3 linked regions of the Homo sapiens genome follow. The protein of the gene in region 3 purifies or fractionates together with the protein of the main gene of each other region. This does not show direct contact. Each region holds a gene or a part of one and is shown on either strand. Other genes may lie near its edges.

Evidence for each region.
Region 1: the proteins of SLC31A1 (region 3) and USP32 purify together in Homo sapiens (co-immunoprecipitation; 3 studies listed by BioGRID and IntAct, with this or other methods). This does not show direct contact.
Region 2: the proteins of SLC31A1 (region 3) and B3GAT3 purify together in Homo sapiens (co-immunoprecipitation; 3 studies listed by BioGRID and IntAct, with this or other methods). This does not show direct contact.

What each region holds. Positions count from the first base shown.
Region 1 is NC_000017.11:60,207,102-60,210,752, forward strand, and holds part of USP32 (ubiquitin carboxyl-terminal hydrolase 32), read right to left. Parts: intron 2,443-3,651; coding exon 2,269-2,442; intron 1,728-2,268; coding exon 1,553-1,727; intron 1,110-1,552; coding exon 958-1,109; intron 32-957; coding exon 1-31. UniProt on the Homo sapiens protein: Deubiquitinase that can remove conjugated ubiquitin from target proteins, such as RAB7A and LAMTOR1.
Region 2 is NC_000011.10:62,615,378-62,619,128, forward strand, and holds part of B3GAT3 (galactosylgalactosylxylosylprotein 3-beta-glucuronosyltransferase 3), read right to left. Parts: intron 1,971-3,751; coding exon 1,610-1,970; intron 1,420-1,609; coding exon 1,129-1,419; intron 864-1,128; coding exon of another isoform or gene 809-863; exon of another isoform or gene 423-808; coding exon 324-422; 3' UTR 1-323. UniProt on the Homo sapiens protein: Glycosaminoglycans biosynthesis. Involved in forming the linkage tetrasaccharide present in heparan sulfate and chondroitin sulfate.
Region 3 is NC_000009.12:113,219,971-113,223,721, reverse strand, and holds the start of SLC31A1 (high affinity copper uptake protein 1), read right to left. Parts: upstream 2,179-3,751; 5' UTR 2,044-2,178; intron 1-2,043. Other genes in the region: FKBP15 (FK506-binding protein 15), read left to right, coding at 2,479-2,531.

The sequences.
Region 1 (3,651 bases), on a different chromosome or scaffold from region 3:
GTCGTACTTTTTGGTTGTCCTGAGGAAAGTTCTACAGAAACAGAAGCAAGATGAGAAGGGGGAGATGTTTCAGATAAAATGGAAAAGTTCTCTCTCTAACATATTTCAAAAGAATGTCTTAGGCGCTTTCATCCGTAAAACCAACGAGATGATTGAATAATTTTTCAACTACATAAAGGATGAATGCTTGATAAAAATAACGGAAAACTAACCTCAATTTTCGAACTATTATCTCTTTTCACAGGAAGAAGTGTGTTATATACGACTGACTTCAGTTTTGTCCGTTTCAGGGATCTAAATTCCAACCCTCAGAGACTCCATTTTTGCATTTCATATTAAGAAACTGTCAGTGAGGTGAGAGTGTGTTCAGAAATCCCAAAGATGAATATAAATAATACCAGTTGCAGGAGCTTAATTTAGAGTAGGCAATATATTTATTAGATTATTTGTTTCCCCAGCTGGTATGTAGAAAGACATGATTGGTGTCAATTTGTCTTTACTCTTAATTTCTTAGTGTGTTAAAAGACCAAGTATATATATTCATAAATACTAAAAACACACATTCATAAATACATAAAATACTTTAACCTAGGAAGAATTCTAGTAACAGCGGTAATACAGAAGAGTTGTCAAGGGTAATAGCAGCAGTCTTTGGTAACAGCAGCAGTCTTTGGTGGAAACCTATACTATAGTGACACAGCTAGAACACTCCATATAGGCAGCCTTACGTATTTCCCTTCTTCAAAAATACCACCATCAGTATTATCCCTTTATTCTGGTAGAAAACTCTTAAGTTTCTGGGTTGGAAAACTTGGCATTTTTTGTTGTTGTTGTTCAGTTTTCGTTATGTTTTAGTATCTCTCTTGGTCACATAACCTAACAATTGATCATAATAATTGAGAAAAATGTCATCTTTGGAGGATAGAATCAAAAGTTTCTTAGAGTAGTTAATATTACCTTTATGTTGGAACCATGTACTTCTGCTAGAAGGATTTGTTCTGAATTAAGTCCACAGAGATCACTCAGCTGTTTTTTTAAACCTGTGTACTTTTCATCCATATTCAGTCTTAGTCCATACCGTACAGGGGTAGTACCATCTAACTTAATCACTAGTAAAGAGAAAAGATCTTTTATTGGTAAAATGCAGGTTTCATTGAAAGTCTTAAATGCTGTGTACAGATATATCTGACCTGTAAATATAATAGCAAATATTTCAGCCTAGAATTTTTATTTTATGTGTAAACACTAAAACAGATGGTACTTAGGGATAATATTAAGTGAAATCAGTATTTTTTTGGTGTTCATCTGACATAAAAGTATCAGTGGCTTTGCAGGGTTTTAAAGAGAGTTGCTGGCATATTTGAAACCAAAAAAACATGCCCCAGTCTACATCTTTCAAACCTCAAGTCATGCCTAAAATTAGGTTGCTCAATTATAATATGCTGACTACCGGTCTTTATTTGTAAACAAATAACTATGCTTACAAATTCAGGCTATTTAAATAAAGTAAATTTAATGGAGTCAAGTAATTTTTCAGAACTTTCTGACCTACCTGTTATTTCTAAGTGCATATAACTGTCCATTGGTAGTGGCAAAGACAAAAAATTGAAAGGGTCAAATCGGACACTTATATGCCCACATGTCTTGCATTTTACTTGAGATCTTAGCTGCCCATGGAACAAATCCACAACAATTGATCTATTTCTTCTTAGATGGTTGTCCCAGGCCTAGCAATAAAAAAGATGAGAATTTTCTCTCAAAATCCAAAAGAGAAGCATTTCTATATAAATTCAAAGAAGCTAGTTAAATATATTGGATTTAAATGTAAAGAATATAATCCTTACTCTTCATTTAACATAAAATATTAAATTGAGATGGAAAATCCTATTTTTCATTTGTTCTTATCAAGGTAACAATGGTAAATATTAAAGTTATTTGTCCATTAACAAGTATAAAGCATGCCTATAGGTCACTGTATCCATTACTTTAGCAATTACGGGGACTCTTTAAATTCCACTGGATAATTATTCCTACATCCAGTCCCATAAAGTTTACAATATGAAATGGCAACAGTTTTCTATTTTCATTAAACGTATTTTTGTTTTGGCATTATTGCATAAGAATTAAGCACAGAAATAGAAATTCATTCATTTTTGCAGTAAAGTTCTGATCTCAGAATAGTTGAGTTTGCATTTAAGTTGTGCTACATGTATTTGTGGCCAGAACATTTTGTCTATTGCTTACATTAGAAACTCAAAACTGACAAACCTCTGCAGCTACTTCCCAGTCTGGTCGCCCATCACTGTCCTTCAGTTCCACATATGGCTTTTCATGGACTCGATTAAGATCTTCATGAAGACCATCCAAGAGAAAAGCCAGAAGTTCTTGGGAGTCCTGTTGCTGAAACCCATTAAACCTGGGAGCATATTTTGCTATGGTCCACTATAAATATAAGAGAAGTCACAGTCATTATTTCCTACCCATAAAATTTGGAATGAACATGTCCTATAATCCAATCAGAGCCATTGTAAGAAAATAAATAGTATAGTACTTAGTCTGCCTCTATTTCAACAAATATATTTTGGATAATCATGAAATCTTTTGAATCTTAATGTCAAATGACCCCCCCCAAAAAAAGAGAAGTATTTTGGCCAATACTGTGCAATACTGTGTCCTCAGTTCAGTATTATGTAAGCAAACTGTTCTTCAGGCACACAGATGTTATTTAAGACAGAAACATTAAAACAGCGTTTGCTCACATTGAAAGACATCCTGTTCTATAACGTTTTACATTTTTATATGCATATAAAATATGTATATTTTATAGGTACATAGTATATACATAACATATGCATAAAATAATGTGTATATAATAATACATAACATGTATAAAATAATATGTGTATACATTATTTTATATAATATAATGTTGTCTTCAACAATTACATTTTCTGGTCTTGTTGCATCCTAAATTTTATTAACTGCATTATATTATAGAATTATTTTGAGGATATAAATTAATTAGAATAGTGCCTGGCAAGAGGTAAGTAGTCAAATGTGTAGCTGTTATAGTTAATAATTTGTAATATAAAAAGCTTTTGCTTTGTATTTAAATAAAAATAATGAATAATCCTAACTTCACTAAAATCTACTACATCTGATATTAATATAAAACTTATATTCATTAGTTTCATTCATTCATCCTTCTACTTTTTTTTTTTCTTTTTGGAGACAGAGTCTTACTCTGTTGCCCAGGCTGGAGTACAGTGGTGCGATCTTGGCTCATTGCAAACACCACCTCCCAGGTTCAAGCGTTTCTCGTGCCTCAGCCTCCCAAGTAGCTGGGATTACAAGCATGCACCACTATGCCCGGCTAATTTTTTTTAGTAGAGACAGGGTTTCGCCATCTTGTCCAGGCTGGTCTTGAACTCCTGGCCTCAAGTGATCCACCCACCTCGGCCTCCCAAAGTGCTGAGATTACAGGCGTGAGCCCCTGCGCCCAGCCTACTTCTTTGTATTCTACAGATAGAACTATCTTAGTTACGTTGAAAATGGATTGGATTGGATGTAATTAATAAGACTCTGAGGTCCACCTTGCAGTTAGAATACTGCTAATAGTGAAGTATTACCAAAAAAGGTTTACTCTTCATA
Region 2 (3,751 bases), on a different chromosome or scaffold from region 3:
CCCCCAGTGCATGCCCAGCCCCAATAAGTTACCCAGTTACTCAGCTGCCCTCCCTCCTGGGTCCATCTGTCCTTCTGTTCCACCCTAGACAGGGCCAACCTGACTCAACACAAGGGCTGCTTGTCCCCAGCCTGTGGGCAGTGCCACACGGCAGGCTAGGGGAGGGGTGAAGCAGCAGGACCATGCCCTGGGCCTGGAGGGGCAGAGGGGCCACTTCTGGCTCCAAGGGTCAGGACTTGGAAAACCACATCCTGGGCAGGCCTGGGGCCCAGTCCCACAAGGTCTGTGCCTGAAAAGAGGTGGTAGTTGGGGTGGGGCCGCCATCACACCTCAATTGCTGGGTCTGAGCCCCGGCCCTGCCGCTGCAGCTGCTCCTCCTGCTTCATCTTGGGCTTCTCTGTCCGAGTATGCCACACCAGTACCTGTGCCAGGAGGGATGCAGTGAGAGCCAGGCCCAGCTGCAGCCAGGCCTCTGGGTCCCCGAGCCTGGAATGGATTCTCTAACCCTATCGACATATACAGTATAGGCTTCAAAGTGTAAAGGGCAGGGTGGAGGAAGACTTAGTGCCTCTAAAACCGGGCCTTGGCCGGGCGCGTGGCTCACGCCTGTAACCCCAGCACTTTGGGAGGCCGAGGAAGGCGGATCACGAGGTCAGGAGATTGAGACCATCCTGGCTAACACCGTGAAACCCCGTCACTACTAAAAACACAAAAAAATTAGCCGGGCGTGGTAGCGGGTGCCTGTAGTCCCAGCTACTTGGGAGGCTGAGGCAGGAGAATGGTGTGAACCCGGGAGGCGGAGCTTGCGCTAAGCCAAGATTGCGCTACTGCACTCCAGCCTGGGTGACACAGCGAGACTCTGTCTGAAAAAAAAAAAAAAACAACAAACAGGGCCTTATTCCTTCATCCTCTCTGTGCCACATGGGTTCCCAGAACTCGGGGCAGAGTGGCAGGAGACCACTTTCCCCCGCTAGTTCCCAGCTTCCCCTTCAGTAGAGTCAGCAAGGCTGATCAGAGATCTGGAGAGTCCCTCCTGGTTAAACCACCCATTCCCAGGGTCTCACTGTACCTCCCCCATCACCTGTCCATCCAAGAGCCAGGTTTCTATGCCCATCTCCATTCCCTTACCCGAGTGCAGTTGGCAGCCCGTGGCTCCAGGTCCTTGGGATCCACAAGGTGGCTCAGAAGACTGCTCTCCAGGTGGCCCCGGGGAGCGGTGGAATCAAATTGGGCATTGGGCTTATCTAACAGCAAGGGCAGGGCCACGGCAAATCCAGCCATATCCACAGGGAAGGGCCTGCTGGGCTCCCATGCTGTGTGGAAGCCCACTACCCGGCCGTCCTGTACCTGAGGGCCCTCGAATCGCAGGCCGCCCACCAGCCCCACAGGCCACACTGAGACACCACGGGTCCAGCGCATCTAACGGAGGTCGGGAGAGAAGAAACAGAGGGGTGGTCCGGGGAAGGGAGCAGCAGAAAGAGCCACCTGGCTCACTCTGCCCCACTGCTTCCAGCCCCTCACCCAGCAGCCAACGGCAACACTGCTAACCAAGGTAACGAATGAAGCTGGCCGCACCTGGTCTCTTGCCCATCCCCATCCTGGTGCTCACCTCCTCAAACAGCTCCCGGCTGTAGGTGTTGTCATCGTCAGCAAAGTAGACGACTCCTTGGGTCCCTGGTGGTGGTGGGTCCTTCTCCCCACCCACAGCACCCCCTCTGCCCCGGAGCCAGTCCAGGGCCTTGTTCCGCTGCTCGACACCACGGGGATGAACCCAGCCAGGCTCGCCCTCCCGAAGCCGCTGGGCTTTGGGCGTGAGGACCACCAGGTGTGTGAAGAGGAGGCCAGAGGCAGCCAGCAGCCCTGAGACCAGCGGGGTGGGACCCTCAGCATCCTCCACCAGCAGCCAATGCAGCCGGGGCACCAGGCTCAGTGTCTGGGACAGTCGTACCAGCTCTGCCTTCTGTACCAGCCTGCAGGGGAGAGATGCAGCACAAGGAAAAGGGGCAGGCACCATTTGCCTGCTCCAGCCAGGGCAGACAGCTTCTCCTGGGCCACTGCCTGCGTCTCCTGTGGCCCTTCCCAACCAATGCCTAAACTCCCTCTTTCTTGCCTGTCAACTTCATGCTAACACTCACCTGCCCTGTTCTTCTGGTCCATGTCCATCACCCACCTCAACTCCAGAGCTCAGGCTGTGGGAGACTATAAATTAAGGGCACAGGGCCGGGCATGGTGGCTCACACCTATAATAACACTTTGGGAGGCTGAGGCAGGTGAATTACCTGAGGTCTGGAGTTCCAGACCAGCCTGGCCAATATGGTGAAACCCCATCTCTACTAAAAAAATACAAAAATTTGCTGGGTGTAGTGGCACATGCCTGTAATCTCAGCTACTTGGGAGGCTGAGGCAGGAGAATCGCTTGAACCTGGAAGGAGGAGGTTGGAGTGAGCTGAGATCGCACCATTTCACTCCAGCCTCAGTGATAACAGCAAAACTCCATCTCAAAAAAAAAAAAAAAAGGCCGGGCATGTTGGCTCACGCCTATAATCCCAGCACTTTAGGAGGCCGAGGTGGGCGGATCACCTGAGGTTAGGAGTTCGAGACCAGCCTGCCCAACATGGCGAAGCCCCGTCTCTATTAAAAATACAAAAAATTACCCAGGCATGGTGGCAGTCACCTGTAATCCTAGCTACTCGGGAGGCTGAGGCAGAAGAATCGCTTGAACCCGGGAGGCGAAGGTTGCAGTGAGCCGAGATTGTGCCACTGCACTCCAGCCTGAGCGACAAGAGCGAAACTCTGTCTCAAAAAAAAAAAAAAAAAAAAAAAAAAACAAATTAAGGGCACAGGCTTTGGGATCAGGTAGATCTGGGTTTGAAATCCAGTTTTGTAACTTATTATGTGAGACAATTTGGGAAAATGGCTCAATCTCCCTAAGCCTCAGTTTCCTCAACTGTAAAATGGGAATAACAGTACTTTATAACAATGTTGTTTTAAAGATTAAATAAGAGCTGGGGATGGTGGCTCACACCTGTAATCCCAGCACTTTGGGAAGCTGAGGCAGGTGGATCATGAGGTCAGGAGATCGAGACCATCCTGGCTAACACGGTGAAACCCCATCTCTACTAAAAATATAAAAAATTAGCTGGGTGTGGTGGCGGGCACCTGTAGTCCCAGCTACTTGGGAGGCTGAGGCAGGAGAATGGCGTGAACCCGGGAGGCAGAGCTTGCAGTGAGCCAAGATCACGCCATTGCACCCAGCCTAGATGACAGAGCGAGACTCCATCTCAAAAAAAAAAAAAATACAAAAGTAAAATACAAAAAATTACTGGCCAGGCATGGTGGCTCACACCTGTAATCCCAGCACTTTGAGAGGCCGAAGCAGGTGGAACACGAAGTCAGGAGTTCCAGACCAGCCTGGCCAACATGGTGAAACCCCATCTCTACTAAAGATACAAAAAATTAGCCGGGTGTGGTGGCGCATGCTTGTAACCCCAGCTACTCGGGGGGCTGAGGCAGGAGAATTGCTTCAATCCGGGAGGTGGAGGTTGCAGTGAGCCGAGATCGTGCCATTGCACTCCAGCCTGGGCGACAGAGTGAGACTCCATCTCGGGAAAAAAAAAAAAAAAATTAGCCTGGTGTGGTGGTGCACGCCTGTAATCCCAGCTACTCGGGAGGCTGAGGCAGGAGAATCGCTTGAACCCGGGAGGTGGAGGTTGCAGTGAGCCAAGATCACACCACTGCACTCCAGCCTGGG
Region 3 (3,751 bases):
ATAATTATTAAAATTGCTGCTTCCCTGAGGGAGTAAGGGGAGTGGAGGGTGGAGAAAAAAAATTGCTGCTTCCTGGCCAATCTTCTGGGGGTTGACAATATATTTTATGAGTATTCTAAAAGTTGTATACTTAAGCAAAACAAATAAACAAAAATGCTTACTTTAAACTTGAGATCAAGGTTGTGCCTTACTTACCTTTGTATCCCCAGCAGTTACTCAGTAGAAGTCCAGGTCTAATCCACTCATTTTACAGTGCTTAGGGAGCCTGGCCCAAACTCAGAGTGAGTTATAAGGGCTGGGACAGGAATTCAGATTTCCTGATTCCTAGTCCAGTATTACCAATCTGAAGATACACGAATTTAGGAAGACAGTGGCTTTCTTTTTTTTTTTTTTTAGGTGCACCCAGTCCTGCAGTTCAAAGCCTGGCAAGACTCACCATCATCTTCCTCCTCCTCATACTGCTAATGAGAATCAGCAGCTGTGTTTCTACAGTGATAATCTGCGTATGCATGTTCGTGATGTTCCAATCACCAAAAAGGCTATTGATTTTAGGATTCCTGAGTACCTACAAAAGCTACTTAAACATCCAGGATAAAATCAGCTCCACCCAAGAATACAAGATAAGAGTTCAAATATTCCCTTGGCCATTTTTTTTTTTTAAAGAAAAGGCTGGAAGGACATGTCATAAACACCTAGAAAGATTCTGCAGTGAGACTGCTTTGCAAGTGACTTTAAGTATTCATTCCATGTTAAAAATACCATAGATAATGTAAGCCAGGGGCTAGCAAGCTCTTTCTGTTAAACATTTAGATGTTTCAGTGCTGCAATCACAGTGACCGGTGTTGGGGAGAGGGATTAGAAAGTGCCATGGTACTTAATCCAGTTACTCCCCCAACACCTCCAAGAGGTAGCCAAGTTCACACACTAAACAGAGCTACTGCAACAGTTCTAGTGCTAGTCCTTAGATTCTAGTTCCAGTTCCGGTTCTAGTGCTTAGATTCCAGTTGCATCATTCCAACTGTGAGCCTTCGCTGCTTTAACATCTTTGCCAGGAGGTGCAAAGTTCTCTGGGAGGGAGCTACCAATCATTTCATTTCAATTTCATACTGACAGATTGAAACATTCACGTAAGGGACACCTGTAGTACCAACCTGACTGTGAGGGGAAGCCCAAGAACTCCAGTGAGTCTGTGGACGCTACGCTGGGACACTATCTCCTTAGCCACACCTTGTCTAAGCCAGGACTACCCCAGGATTGTTTCGAGAATGATACCAGGTTAACCAAAGAAATACTTATGTAAGATACAGATAGGGTGGAAACTGGAGGCAGAGGAGTCCGCCACAATTGATGTTGATTTAGGGCTGTCGCAGGAAGACCCAGGGAAACCCACGCCAAAGTTGGGGTGGGGATGTGTCTGCCTCCAAAGTATCCTCCTTTCCATCACCCACCGCCAGAATATCTTAGCTCTTCTGCACCTCATCCGCGTAGAATACAGGTGGACTCTAGAAAGGGGACTTTCCTCGAGGTGTATGCTACAGTCTTTCAATAGTCACTCTGTAAGGGCACACAGTGCTTAAGGGCTGATAAGGTTCTTGTTCACCCACTAGCTCACTATGTCCTGAATCAAAGGACGAGGAATCCAGTCTCAGTCTGCCCTTTACTCTTTGTGACCTCGGACTAGTCACCCGGGTGCTTAGTTCCTTCGTCTCCCTATCTGTAAATTCTGAGATTACGAGGAGGCCGGGATTGAAATCCATGGCCTCTGAGCTCTAAAATCTTCTGGACCAGCAGGCACATGGAAGAACTGGACAAATGGCCGGTTGCATACACGGGGAAACTGAGGCACCGAGCACCCCGGCCCAAGGTCACTCTGGCTATGCCACTGCAGGGGCCGGGCCGAAGCCCCAGTCTTTAACCCTCCAGTCCCGAGCTCTTTCTCCTTCCGCGGAGCTGAGGAAAGCGGCGAGGAAGGTCCTTGTCCCGCTGGGAAAAGGACGGTACCCATGCACAGGGGTGCGAAAGAGGGGCCGAGAGAAGCCTTACCTTTCCAGGTCAAGTCCAGCCACTAGCACCTCTCTCTCCGAATCTTAACCCGTCACCCCCTCACGACTCTTCGAACGGCCCCTCCACTTCTACCCGGCTCGACGTGTCCACCACCGCCACCGAGGCCGAGGATTTCCCGCCCCCTCCCGCCCCCTAGCATTACCGACCAATCCCTGCAAGGGGCTGTGAAGCTCCGCCCCGCTGCGGGCTGGAGAGGCCTGACGTCACTCGGCGCTCGTGCCCGCGCGAGCCTCTCATTTGCCTTTGCCCCACCTTCTCCAGAGCCCAGTCTACTTTCGGTCCAGAGACCGTGCTGGAGTTCGCCCTGCCGGAAAGCAGCACGCCGCCGCGGCATTTTACGACGTCGGCGGTGACAGGCCCTGGGACTCTGGGAATACCCAGCTTCCTCCCCGCAACCCGGTGAAAGCCAACGCAATGTTCGGTGCGGGGGACGAGGACGACACCGATTTCCTCTCGCCGAGCGGCGGGTGAGTGACTGAGAAGTATGCGCTGGAGGGCGTGGCTGAGAGATACCGGCGGATTGTTGGAGGGGGGTCGATCTCTTCTCAGGCCTTTTCCCAACTTCCGGGGGGAGACCCTTGCCACATTCCGGTGCTCTACACCTCTCAGAATCTGGGCAGAACTTGCAACTGTGCTGACCCTGCCGATCTGAGGTTCGGGACCCGGCATCTCTCTTGGCGGGAAGATAGCCCTGGGTTTGCCTTTTGCATTCTGGGTCACAATTTCTCCGGTGAAATGGGAATGATTGCTGATGAGACTTCCTGCCTCAGAATTTTTATAGGAGTCAGCTGGGGCTGATGTGAGACTTCTTTTCTCCATGGAGAAGGCGAAGACACTTTAGAACCAGGCCTTGGTGGGTCAGCTCTAGCATTCTTCAAGGCCCAGCTCGGATGTCACGTTTTGGATGCTTTTCCTTCTGCAACCTCAGGCAGAATGAATTGCTTTCTCTTCCTTATTCCTGCAGCTAGGTGTGTTTGCCTCTATTCTTATACCCCGCACCTATTAGATTATGAGTCCTCACCGGACAGGGACTGCTTATGGTGTTCATTTCTGTCTAGCATGCAGCATGGTACCTAGCACATAGTGAGTGCTCAGGAAGTGGCTGTTGAATGAATAATAGCTGCGAAATTGCACTTTGTAAAGCTTAAAGCTTAAAACCAACGTAACAGACTTCTGTCATTCTCCAGTTTCCCCAAGCATTATATTAATATATACCAGCCTGGAATAGAAATCTTTAAAGAGAGGAAGGGTTTTGTCTCTTTTAGTAGTCAGTTTAGCCTTTTCCATTGTGTTGTGCCAGTGGACAGCTTGACTTCCTCCAAACTTGTGAGCTACCAAGCTCTGATCATTGCAGAGCTTTTCTTTGAACATATGCTTAACAAATTTTGTGCGTGCTGAAGAATGTACTGGAAAAATGACAAATGCACCACATATGCCCCTTATTCTGCTAAATGCTAAGAGGTTACAAAAATGATTAAACTGCTGTGCCTGCCCTTAAGTTGCTTCCAGATCTGTTGGGCCATGTGGTTTCTATTGCAACCACAAATACTCAGTTCTGCCTTGTAGGGTGAGAGTAGTCATAGACAATACATAAACAAATGAGTTAATAGATGAATGACCATAAAATGACACTGGCCTTCTTTTGTCCTTAAGTAGGAATTTTTGATTTACACTGACTAGCTCTATA